Regions from separate parts of the Homo sapiens genome. Here region 2 is reported to be linked to region 1. Evidence: microRNA targets listed by miRTarBase, many of them from high-throughput screens and not tested one by one. Region 1 holds a microRNA gene; the other region holds the end of a gene's coding sequence.

Region 1 (5,175 bases):
CCACGAATGTTCCCATGTTCCTGGGGCGTCACGCAGGTCCCAGCCACATCCAAATGTCCCCCCTTAAGAACTGGGGTTTCCTTCATGTCACATCCCTCAAACCCAAGTTCCCCTCCAGCATTCTCAGATACCAGGCACCCCAAATCTTCCCCTGAGGCCTGAGTAATCCCGTAGGTCCAAGTTGCCCCCAAATGTCACTAGCTCAAGACCCTCAGATCCTGGTTATCGCCACATGTCACCCCTCAGGCTCAGCGTTTCCCTCAGGGTCACCCCACCACCACCACTTCAGATCAGCTTCCATCCTCCCTTGATCAGCGATGTGAAAATCTTTCCACTCTAGGGTTTCCCTCATGGTCACCCCACGATCCAGGACACCCCCAAGGTCACCTTTCCAAGCACAGGATACCCTGCTGCACAGAGCAGGTGGGGCAGGGATGGGCAGGCAGGAGCCCGGAGTGCCAGGATGGTAAATTCAGGCCAATCAAAAGCTGAAACTCCAGCGATGGGAGGCAGGAGTGAATCACAGACCAGACCTTCAGGAATGAAGTCAGGGCAACTTTTATTTACTTGAACAACAGACATGACACACAGCACGATCTCTCCTCTCCATCCCATCCCAAGCTTCTGTCCACGACTACCCAGGGTGGGGAAAAAGGCAATGGCCCAGCCCCGATGACCTGGGGGACTTCAGTGTGCCTCCTCAGTCCCACCCAGAAAAAAGCCTCCTCCCATCTGATTTCAAGATAGTGGAGAAAAGCCAGGCACGGTGGCTCACACCTGAGCCACCTGTAATTCCGGCGCATTGGGAGACTAAGGTGGGAGGATGGCTTGTGGCCAGGAGTTCGAGAACAGCCTGGGCAACATAGTGAGACCTGCCCCCCCATCTCTACAAAAATTAAAATTAAAAAAATTAGCCAGGTGTGGTGGCGCATACCTGTAGTCCCAGCTCTACTGGGGAGGCTAAGGCAGGAGGATCACTTGTGCCCAGGAATTCAAGGTTGCAATGAGCCATGATCACACCAGCCTGGCCAAGATGGTGAAACCCCGTCTCTACTAAAAATACAAAGATTAGCCGGGCATGGTGGTGGGTGCCTGTAAGCCCAGCTACTCAGGAGGCTGAGGCAGGAGAATCGCTTGAACCCAGGAGGCAGAGGTTGCAGTGAGCCAAGATCACACCACTGCACTTCAGCCTGGGCAACAGAGTGAGACTCCGTCTCAAAAACAAACAATAAAAGGCCAGGCACGGTGGCTCACAGCTGTAATCCCAGCACTTTGGGAGGCTAAGACGAGCAGATTGCTTGAGGTCAGGAGTTCAAGACCAGTCTGGGTAACATGGCGAAACCCCGTCTCTACAAAACATAAAAAAAAATTGGCCGGGCGCAGTGGCTCATGCCTGTAATCCCAACACTTTGGGTGGCTGAGGCGGGCAGATCACCTGAGGTCAAGAGTTCGAGACCAGCCTGGCCAACATGGCGAAACTCGGTCTCTACTAAAAATACAAAAATTAGCCAGGTGCGGTGGTGTGCACCTGTAATCCCAGCTACTTGGGAGGCTGAGGCAGGAGAATCGTGTGAACTGGGGAGGTGGAGGTTGCAGTGAGCCGAGATCGAGCCATTGCACTCCAGCCCGGGTGACAGTGCGAGACTCCATCTCAAAAAAAAAAAAACAAAAAAAAAAAAACAGAGTCCTAACTCTTCCCTGCCCTGAGAACCCCCTCAAGGCAGGGAGGATCAGCTATTCCCAGCGCCTCAGGACTAAGCACACCTGCTTGTGTCCCTTCTGGGTCCACAAGGAACTTGTTCCATGCCCCACATGTGGGGCGGGTGTCACTGCTCCTCCCGGCAAGTTAGAAAGCTGCAGGGCCCAGCAAGAAGGGGCCAGGTCAGGTCAACCCAGCCTGATACCGGAAGCCAGGAGTTGGCATTTAACGGTCTGGAGGCCCAAGGCAGCTTCCTCTTGGGTAACTGGCTGCTAGGAAGGTGCGGGCCGGGCCAGTGCCCCTGCCAGGCTTGGGAGAGGAGGGGCCAAGCCTCCAGGCCCGGAAAGGACACAGCTGGCTTCCCTTTTAATGGAAGGGCCACCCACTCACCCACCTATCTATGCTGGCACCACAGCCCAGCCTGAGCTGTGGCCATGCAGGGGTCCCCAGTTGCAGAGTTGGGGATCAGGGCCTGCAGCACACATTTGGGCCCAGCCAACCCCACCCACCACATCCCTCCTCCAGACACAGGTCTGATTCTGAGTCCTCATCTCTGCTCCAAGCATCAGCCCACCCAGGGAAGGCAGGGGCTGCAGGCTCCAAGGGGGCTTGACCCCTGTTCCTGCTGAACTGAGCCAGTGTACACAAACCAACTGTGTTTCAGCTCAGTAGGCACGGGAGGCAGAGCCCAGGGAGGCCAGGCAGCAGGATGGCAGGCAGACAGGCGGCAGCAGGGGACAGGCGGCAAGGCCAGAGGAGGTGAGGGCCTGGGGGGCGGAACTTAGCCACTGTGAACACGACTTGGTGTGGACCCTGCTCACAAGCAGCTAAGCCCTGCTCCTCAGGCCAGGCACAGGCTTCGGGGCCTCTCTGCCACCCCGTCCCCGGGCAGCATCCTCGGTGGCAGAGCTCAGGGTCGGTTGGAAATCCCTGGCAATGTGATTTGTGACAGGAAGCAAATCCCATCCCCAGGAACCCCAGCCGGCCGTGGCACAGGGGTGAGGGGGGCACCGGGCGGGGCCAGAGGCTGGCACCTGGAGGGGAGAAAGAGAGAGAGAGCAAAGGAGGTAATGAGATTTGGGGACACCTCCCCTCCAGGTCCCCAGATGCTTCCTTTGATCACAGGGAAGCTCTTTTCTCATATGCAGGAGCCACCACACGGGGAGCTGGAGCCTAGCTGTGCCCTCCGTTCCAGCCCCAGGACTGGAGAGGCAGAGATACCTAGAGGGCCCATGCGGGACAAGGAGGCTACAGCAACTTGCATGGCCAAGCTCCCCCCTCATTGAGCCCTGGGCAGGCCAAATGGGGCCATGGGGAGAGGAAGCCAAGGGGGGCCAGGCAGGCGGGTGAGGAAGTGATCTCACCCCAGCTGGCGCCACTTCCTAGAAGCCTGGAGGGCAGGAGGAAACCACCAGGGCCTCCCCCCCCGTGGCCCGGTCTCCTCAGTGGCCAGGGCTTAGCCCACACCCACCAGGGCGGATGCCGGCAGCAAGGCACCCCCCTCTCTTTCTAGACACGCACCCCCCGCCCCCCAGAGCACAGGATCCAAGCTCCAAGATACAGGCCTCTCCACCCAAACAGCCCAAGGTTCAAATCCTTGCTCCACAGTTTCCCAAAGACTCTCCAAAGCTTCAGTTTCCCCATCTGTAAAATGGAGCCAAGAGCCTCTTTTGCATAGCCCAGTGAGATGTCACCGAGTATGTATGTCACTCAGTAAGTGCCCAGCACCAGGGCAAGATACAGGATTTTCAGGACCCGGTGCAAAATGAACACGTGGTCCTCTAGTTCGAAAACTAAGAATTTCAGGCCAAGCATGGCGGCTCACGCCTGTAATCCCAGCACTTTGGGAGGCCGAGGCAGGAGAGTCACCTGAGGCCAGGAGTTCAAGACCAGCCTGCGCAATACGACAATACCCCATCTCTACAAAAAAAAAAAATATTTTTTCTTTTTTGAGACAGGGTCTCACTCTGTCGCCACGGCTAGAGTGCAGGGGTGCAATCACAGCTCACTGCAGCCTCAGCCTCCCAGGTTCAAGTGATCCTCCCACCTTAGCCTCCGGGGTAGCTGGGACTACAGCTATGCACCACCATGCCCGGCTAATTTTTTCTTTTTCTTTTCTTTTTTTTTTTTTTTGAGACAGAGTCTCGCCCTGTCGCCCAGGCTGGAGTGCAATGGCGTGATCTCGGTTCACTGCAACCTCCACCTCCAGAGTTCAAGCAATTCTCCTGCTTCAGCCTCCCGAGTAGCTGGGATTACAGGTGCCCGCCACCACGCCCAGTTAAGTTTTGTATTTTTAGTAGAGACGGGGTTTCACCATGTTGGCCAGGCTGGTCTCGACCTCCTGACCTCAGGTGATCCGCCCACCTCGGCTTTCCAAAGTGCTGGGATTACAGGCGTGAGCCACCACACCTGGCCCTAATTTTTGTAGAGATGGGGTTTTGCCATGTTGCCCAGACTGGTCTCCAACTCCTGGGCTCAAGCAATCCGCCTGCCTCAGCCTCCCAAAGTGCTGGGCTTACAGGCCTGAGCCACAGTGTCTGGCCCACAAAAAATTCACTAAAAAATCAGCCAGGAGTGGTGGTACACATCTGTAGCCCCAGCTACTCAGGCGGCTGAGGTGGGAGGACTGCTTGAGCCCAGGAGTTTGAGGCTGCCGTGATCTATGACCATGCCACTGAACTCCAGCCTAAGTGACAGAGCAAGACCCTATCTCTAAAATAAACAAAAACAAGTTTAAAAAAAGAAAATAATTTCAGGCTGAGCGCGGTGGCTCATCCCTATAATCCCGGCACTTCGGGAGGCCAAGACAGGAAGATCGCTTGGGGCCAGGAGTTCGAGACCAGCCTGGGCAATACAAGACAAAAAAATTAATAATAATAAAAAAAAATTCATGACCCCAGCAGTGCAACATTAAACTAACCTCCAGGTCCCTCCAAGCAGGGCTGCCGTGAGACTGCCCGTTTCACAAATGCATGAAGCCAGCCCTAAGTCTTTAGTGAGTGGAGCTTCTTTTGATAAGAGCCCAACACCTGGCTAGCAGACTCCAGTTTTGGAGCCCAAGTCTGCCCAGATTTGAAAGCCCCAGCTCTGCAGCTTCTGAGCTGGGTGACTCTGGGCAAGTCACTCAACCTCTCTGGGCCTCAGCTTCCCCATCTGCAAAACAGGGATAATAAGTATGGACTTCATAAGTCATGGTGAGGACCCCATGAGTGATAAACATGATCACGACAGAGCTGCTGCTGTCTTTGCCAAGGCAAAGGATAACGGAAACGTGGGTGTCTCACACCAGGACCCCAGTGTCCGCCCGATGTGGTGGCGCTCACCACTTCGAGACAGGCGGCGAGTGATGTCCTGTTTTGTCCCCTCCCTATACACACATACACACATACCAGCCACTCTTTCCCATCAGGCCCCAGCCCAGCCCTGTCCCCTTAGGGTCTGGAGGCGCCAACTGGGAGCAGGCGAGGCCCCGCAGG
Region 2 (5,000 bases), not on the chromosome of region 1:
TCAATCAGGGTGTAGGAGATATGTACAGTCAATTGAAATCTTTGATCTGGAGAAGCAATGGATATGCAGGTCACATAGAGTCTTTTGGAAGAGTTCTAGTGAAGGAAATATAGTAGTGCTGGGAATGGGGGGACAAAAAAGCTGTAGGATGAGGTTTGAGTGGGATATTTCAGGCCTTTGTAAGTAGAATTGCCATGAAGTGTGGTTTTGGAAATTCTAGGCAGTGATTTCTTAGAAACTATTAAGTAAAGAATGGAGTTGTTATCCTAATATTATGTCTCTGGCTTTCTCTGTTCTCCTGTCTTGCAGCTCTGTTCCAAACCAGGCACCACAGCCATCCAACTGGGTCCAGTTCTGAATGGCATTGGCAGGACATTAAGGACAGACTTGAGGAATAAAAATGACCTTGAGGGCACCAATCTGTGAGGGAAGTTAGGAACCCATTTCCTCCCCAGAACCAGAATGACTGGACAATCTTTTTCATAGCTTCTCCATCACATTCAAGCTGGTTTATGTCACTCCCCTGTGTTGTTACTTGTACAGCCAAGAAAGTATCTGTTATCTCCTGCGTAGTACCAAGGTAGGGGACTAGTGGATCTTATCATAGTTTTGGCTGACTATGCAGGGCTTAAAAGGCCAGCGTCTGTTTGAGGGGGAATGACCTCTAACATCTGTAAAATTTGTCTCATCTTTTAATTTCTTTAACTTATTTCAAAATCATCTCATGACCCTTGTGTGCCTCTTTGTGAAGCCCTATTTAGCAATTTCAGGGGAGTCAAAAACCTTGCAACTTCCTTCTCCACTAACCCAGGACTAAAAATGGACAGGCTGACCTCAGTGTTTACAAATTCAGAATTTTGATAGGGGTAGATATGGAGAAAGACCTATTTCCTGGGTCTCTGCTGTGTAGTCTCCTTCAGGCTTATTGTGCTCAGTGAACATCCAGTGCTGGGTGCAGCTCCATCACCCTCTTGTGTGTTTACATGTCTCTTTCTATGATAAGAGGGTTGTGTTGGTGGCACCTCCACTACTCTTTTCTGTTTGTTGAGTTTGAATTGTGTTAACATCTTTGATCAGTGGGTGTATCTGTAATGAAGGAGGTTCAAGAGGCTGTGCTTTCCAAGTGATAGTCTATAGGAGTGTTTAATTTCTTGCAGCTCCATCTGGTTGCTGCATTTGAAGCATGGCATTAATTTGTATTTGCCCTGTTCTTTGACCTAAAGTTGAAGGGTTTAGAGTTTTTAACCTGATCTGTAGAGCAGAGAGGTTGAAAGCACTTAACTCTTGTTTAGTATCCTCATTGCCTTGCTGCCTGGGTATCTGGCCCCTTTCCATAAACATTTCTTTTCAGTTCATGTAGTTCTTTAATAGAAAGCTGCTATTATGTATATTGTCATTTGTGAAGGAAGTTGGAGAGTCACAGCTTTACTGTGACAGGTTTTGCCCAAGGCTTTGATACCTGTCACCCAGGGTATCTTAAAAGCAAGTTGTTCTCCCACTACTTTCCTTTCCCTCTGCCCTGCCATTCCTATTACAATGCTGTGAAAAAAGTTCTGCTTCTTAGGTGAATGGGTACTTTCTATTTTGTTTCTAAACGAGCAATTTTGAGGATGAAATGGGAAGATATCATTGCTTCCTTTTTGCACCTATTGGGTATGTACACTCTGGCCGAAGGGAGTCCTTATGTTTAGTTTCAAAATATATTACTTTCCTGGATTCTCTTCTTCACTTTTTCTGACTTTGGGTCCATTTTCTTTTCATTGCCTCCTTTTCCAGGCAGCTCTATTCTTGCAGAGCCATAGCAGGACATGTTAAAATTCCAATAGAAAACACTAAAAGGAAAGTCTGTGGAATCACTAGTGACTAAATACTGGGAACCTATTTTCTCAATCTTCCTCCATGTTGTGTTCTTTGTATTCTTGAGATGATAATATATTATGTATTTGAATTCCTGAAAAATGGAAAATGTTTAAGATATATGTATATAAAGTGTATGCTGTATTGGTGCAATAATGGTAATTAAAAATATGAAAAAAGTGTCTCTTTTATCTTTTAATTTGCTTATTTGATTACCTTTTAAATTTAATTGACCAAATATAAGTGGACCAGTAGTTAATAAAGGATATTTATATCACTCTTTATTAAGAAATAAGGCTTTTAAGAAGTTGAGACTAGACCTCTGTGTTCATGGTTCTAAAATGACAGAGCACTCTGTGTAATCAATGAATATTCATTATTTATTTTCTGGTACAGTTAATTTAATTTGCTTCAAATTATCTTCATGATCTAGGCCACCTCTTATATCTTAACTGTAATCAGCAGAAATGAAAGGGATCAGTATAAGAGAAATAACTAAGGTCAGAACCACAGACTTTGGAAACCAGAAAAGGTCTTGGGAGTTCTTGTTCAGTGATTGCCACAGGAGATAAATTAGCTAGATGTGGTTGGTGGTTTACTCCTGTAATTCCAGCACTTTGAGAGGCTAAGGTGGGAAGATTGGTTGAAGCCAGTTCAAGACCAGCCTGGGCAGTATAGCGAGATCTTATCTCTACAAAAAATCTAAAAATTAGCTGGGCATGGCAGCATGTGCCTGTAGTCCTAGCTACTTGGGAGGCCGAGGTGGGAGGGTCACTTGAGCCTGGGAGGACGAGGCTGCAGTGAGTTGTGATTGTACCATGGTACTCTAGCCTGGATGATAAAATGAGACTCTCTCAAAAGAAAAAACAAAAAACATGAATCAAGGCTGGGCATGGTGGCTCATACCTATAATGCTAGCACTTTGGGAGGCTGAGGCGGGTGGATCACCAGAAGTCAGGAGTTCGAGACCAGCCTGGCCAACATGGTGAAACCCTGTCTCTACTACAAATACAAAAATTAGCTGGGCGTAGTGGTGGGTGCCTGTAATCCCAGCTACTCTGGAGGCTGAGGCAGGAGAATCACTTGAACCTGGGAGGCAGAGGTTGCAGTGGGCTAAGATTACACCACTGCACTCCAGCCTGGGTGACAGTGAGACTCCATCTCCAAAAAAAACAAACAAAACCCCCCCAAAACCATAAAACTATAGCTACAGTAATTTGTTAGTGGATACACAGTATGAAAATATGAAAATTGGTATCAAAAACAAAATGTGGCTGGGTGTGGTGGCTCACGCCTGTAATCCTAGCACTTTGGGAGGCTGAGGTGGGAGTATTGCTTGAGACCAGGAGTTCAAGACGAACCTGGCCAACATAGTAAGACCCTGTCTCAAACAAAACAAAAAATATATATGGGAGGGAAAGTTAAAGTGCAGAGTTTTTGTATGTGATTTAAATTATCAGCTTAAAATAAACTGTTAAAAAGTGTTATGTAAACCTCATGGTAACCACAAAGCAAAAACTATAGTAGATACACAAAAGATAAAGAGAACAATCAAAGGACTATAGAAAATCATCAAATAACAAAGGAATAGAGCAAGAGAGGAAGAAAGGAACAAAGGGCCCACAAAACAATCAAAAAACAATTTGAAAAATGGCAGCAGTAAGTCCTTACCTATTAATGATTATTTTGAATGCAAAATGGATTACATTCTCCAATCAAAAGACAGAGTGGCTAAATGAATTAAAAAAACAAGACTCAACTGTATCCTGCCTACAAGAGCATCACTTCACCTTTAAGGACACATAGAGACTGAAAGTTAGGCATGGAGACAGATATTTAATGCAAATGGAAACCAAAAGAGGGCAGGGGTAGCTATATTACTATATAGTCCCTCCTTATCTGAGGTTTTGTTTTCTGTGCTTTCAGTTACCTGCAGTCAACTGTGCTTTGAAAATACTAACTGGAAAATTACAAAAATTATTCATAAGTTTAAAAGTGGCACACTGGGGGCCGGGCGCGGTGGCTCACCCCTGTAATCCCAGCACTTTGGGAGTCCGAGGCGGGTGGATCATGAGGTCAGGAGATCGAGACCATCCTGGCTAACATGGTGAAACCCCGTCTCTACTAAAAAATAGAAAAAATTAGCCGGGCGTGGTGGCGGGCACCTGTAGTCCCAGCTATTCGGAAGGCTGAGGCAGAATGGCGTGAAGCTGGGAGGCGGAGCTTGCAGTGAGCCGAGATCGCGCCACTGCACTCCAGCCTGGGCGACAGAGCGAGACTCCGTCTCAAAAAAAAAAAAAAAAAAAATAGTGGCACACAGTTGAGTAGTGTGATGAAATCTCACACCATATTCCTTTGCCCTGCCCTGGATGTGAATCATCCTTTTGTCCAATGTGTCCATTCTATATACATTACCTACCTATTTGACACTTGATAGTCCTCTCAGTTATCAGATTGTTGTGGTATTGCAATGCTTGTACAAATTCAGTTAACCCTTATTTTACTTAATAGTGGCCCCAAAGCACAAGAGTGGTGACTCTGGCATATTGTTATATTTATTCTATTTTATTATTACTTATTGTTAATCTCTTGCTGTGCCTAATTTATAAATTTAACTTTATCATAGGTGTATATATAGGAGAAAACATAATGTATATAGGGTTCAGTACCATCTGTGGTTTCAGGCATCCAAGGGGGATCTTGGAATGTATTCCCTCAGGATAAGGGGGGAATACTGTATGTATTTCAGACAAAATAGACTTTAAGTCAAAAGCTATAACAAGAGCAAGAGACACGGTCATTACATAAACGTTGAAGAGGTAAATTCTTTTTTTTTTTTCTTTGAGACAGAATCTCCCTCTTGCCCAGGCTGGAGTGCAGTGGTATGATCTCAGCTCACTGCAACCTCTGCCTCCTGGGTTCAAGTGATTCTCCTGCCTCAGCCTCCTGAAGCTGGGACTACAGGCATGTACCACCACGCCCGGCTGATTTTTGTATTTTTAGTAGAGATGGGTTTTCACCGTGTTGGCCAGGCTGGTCTTGAATTACAGACCTCAAGTGATCCACCCACCTCAGCCTCCCAAAGTGCTGGGATTACAGGTGTGAGCCATTGTGCCTGGCCCAAAGAGGTAAATTCATCAAGA

Evidence for each region. Region 1 holds the annotated microRNA hsa-miR-27a-3p (UUCACAGUGGCUAAGUUCCGC, at 2,474-2,494, opposite strand). A microRNA usually pairs through its seed, bases 2 to 8, with sites in the 3' UTR of a target mRNA and lowers its output. Matches are read on the target gene's strand: a 7mer-m8 pairs with bases 2 to 8, a 7mer-A1 pairs with bases 2 to 7 and ends in A, and an 8mer does both.
Region 2: the mRNA of NECAP1 is a reported target of hsa-miR-27a-3p. Seed matches in the 3' UTR shown: 7mer-m8 at 1,428-1,434 and 7mer-A1 at 1,540-1,546.

The regions. Positions count from the first base shown.
Region 1 is chr19:13,833,974-13,839,148 of GRCh38, forward strand. MIR27A (microRNA 27a) reads right to left here and starts at 2,544; the gene lies at 2,467-2,544. It overlaps MIR23AHG (miR-23a/27a/24-2 cluster host gene), which reads right to left. Exons shown (of 1, transcript NR_036515.2): 1 at 543-5,175. MIR24-2 (microRNA 24-2) reads right to left here and starts at 2,386; the gene lies at 2,314-2,386. MIR23A (microRNA 23a) reads right to left here and starts at 2,686; the gene lies at 2,614-2,686. RefSeq lists enhancers at 4,619-4,728, 4,759-4,978.
Region 2 is chr12:8,095,733-8,100,732 of GRCh38, forward strand. NECAP1 (NECAP endocytosis associated 1) reads left to right here. Exons shown (of 8, transcript NM_015509.4): 8 at 310-2,149. The coding sequence ends at 358. Among named protein-coding and RNA genes, the nearest start is that of NECAP1, 16 kb to the left of the region's middle.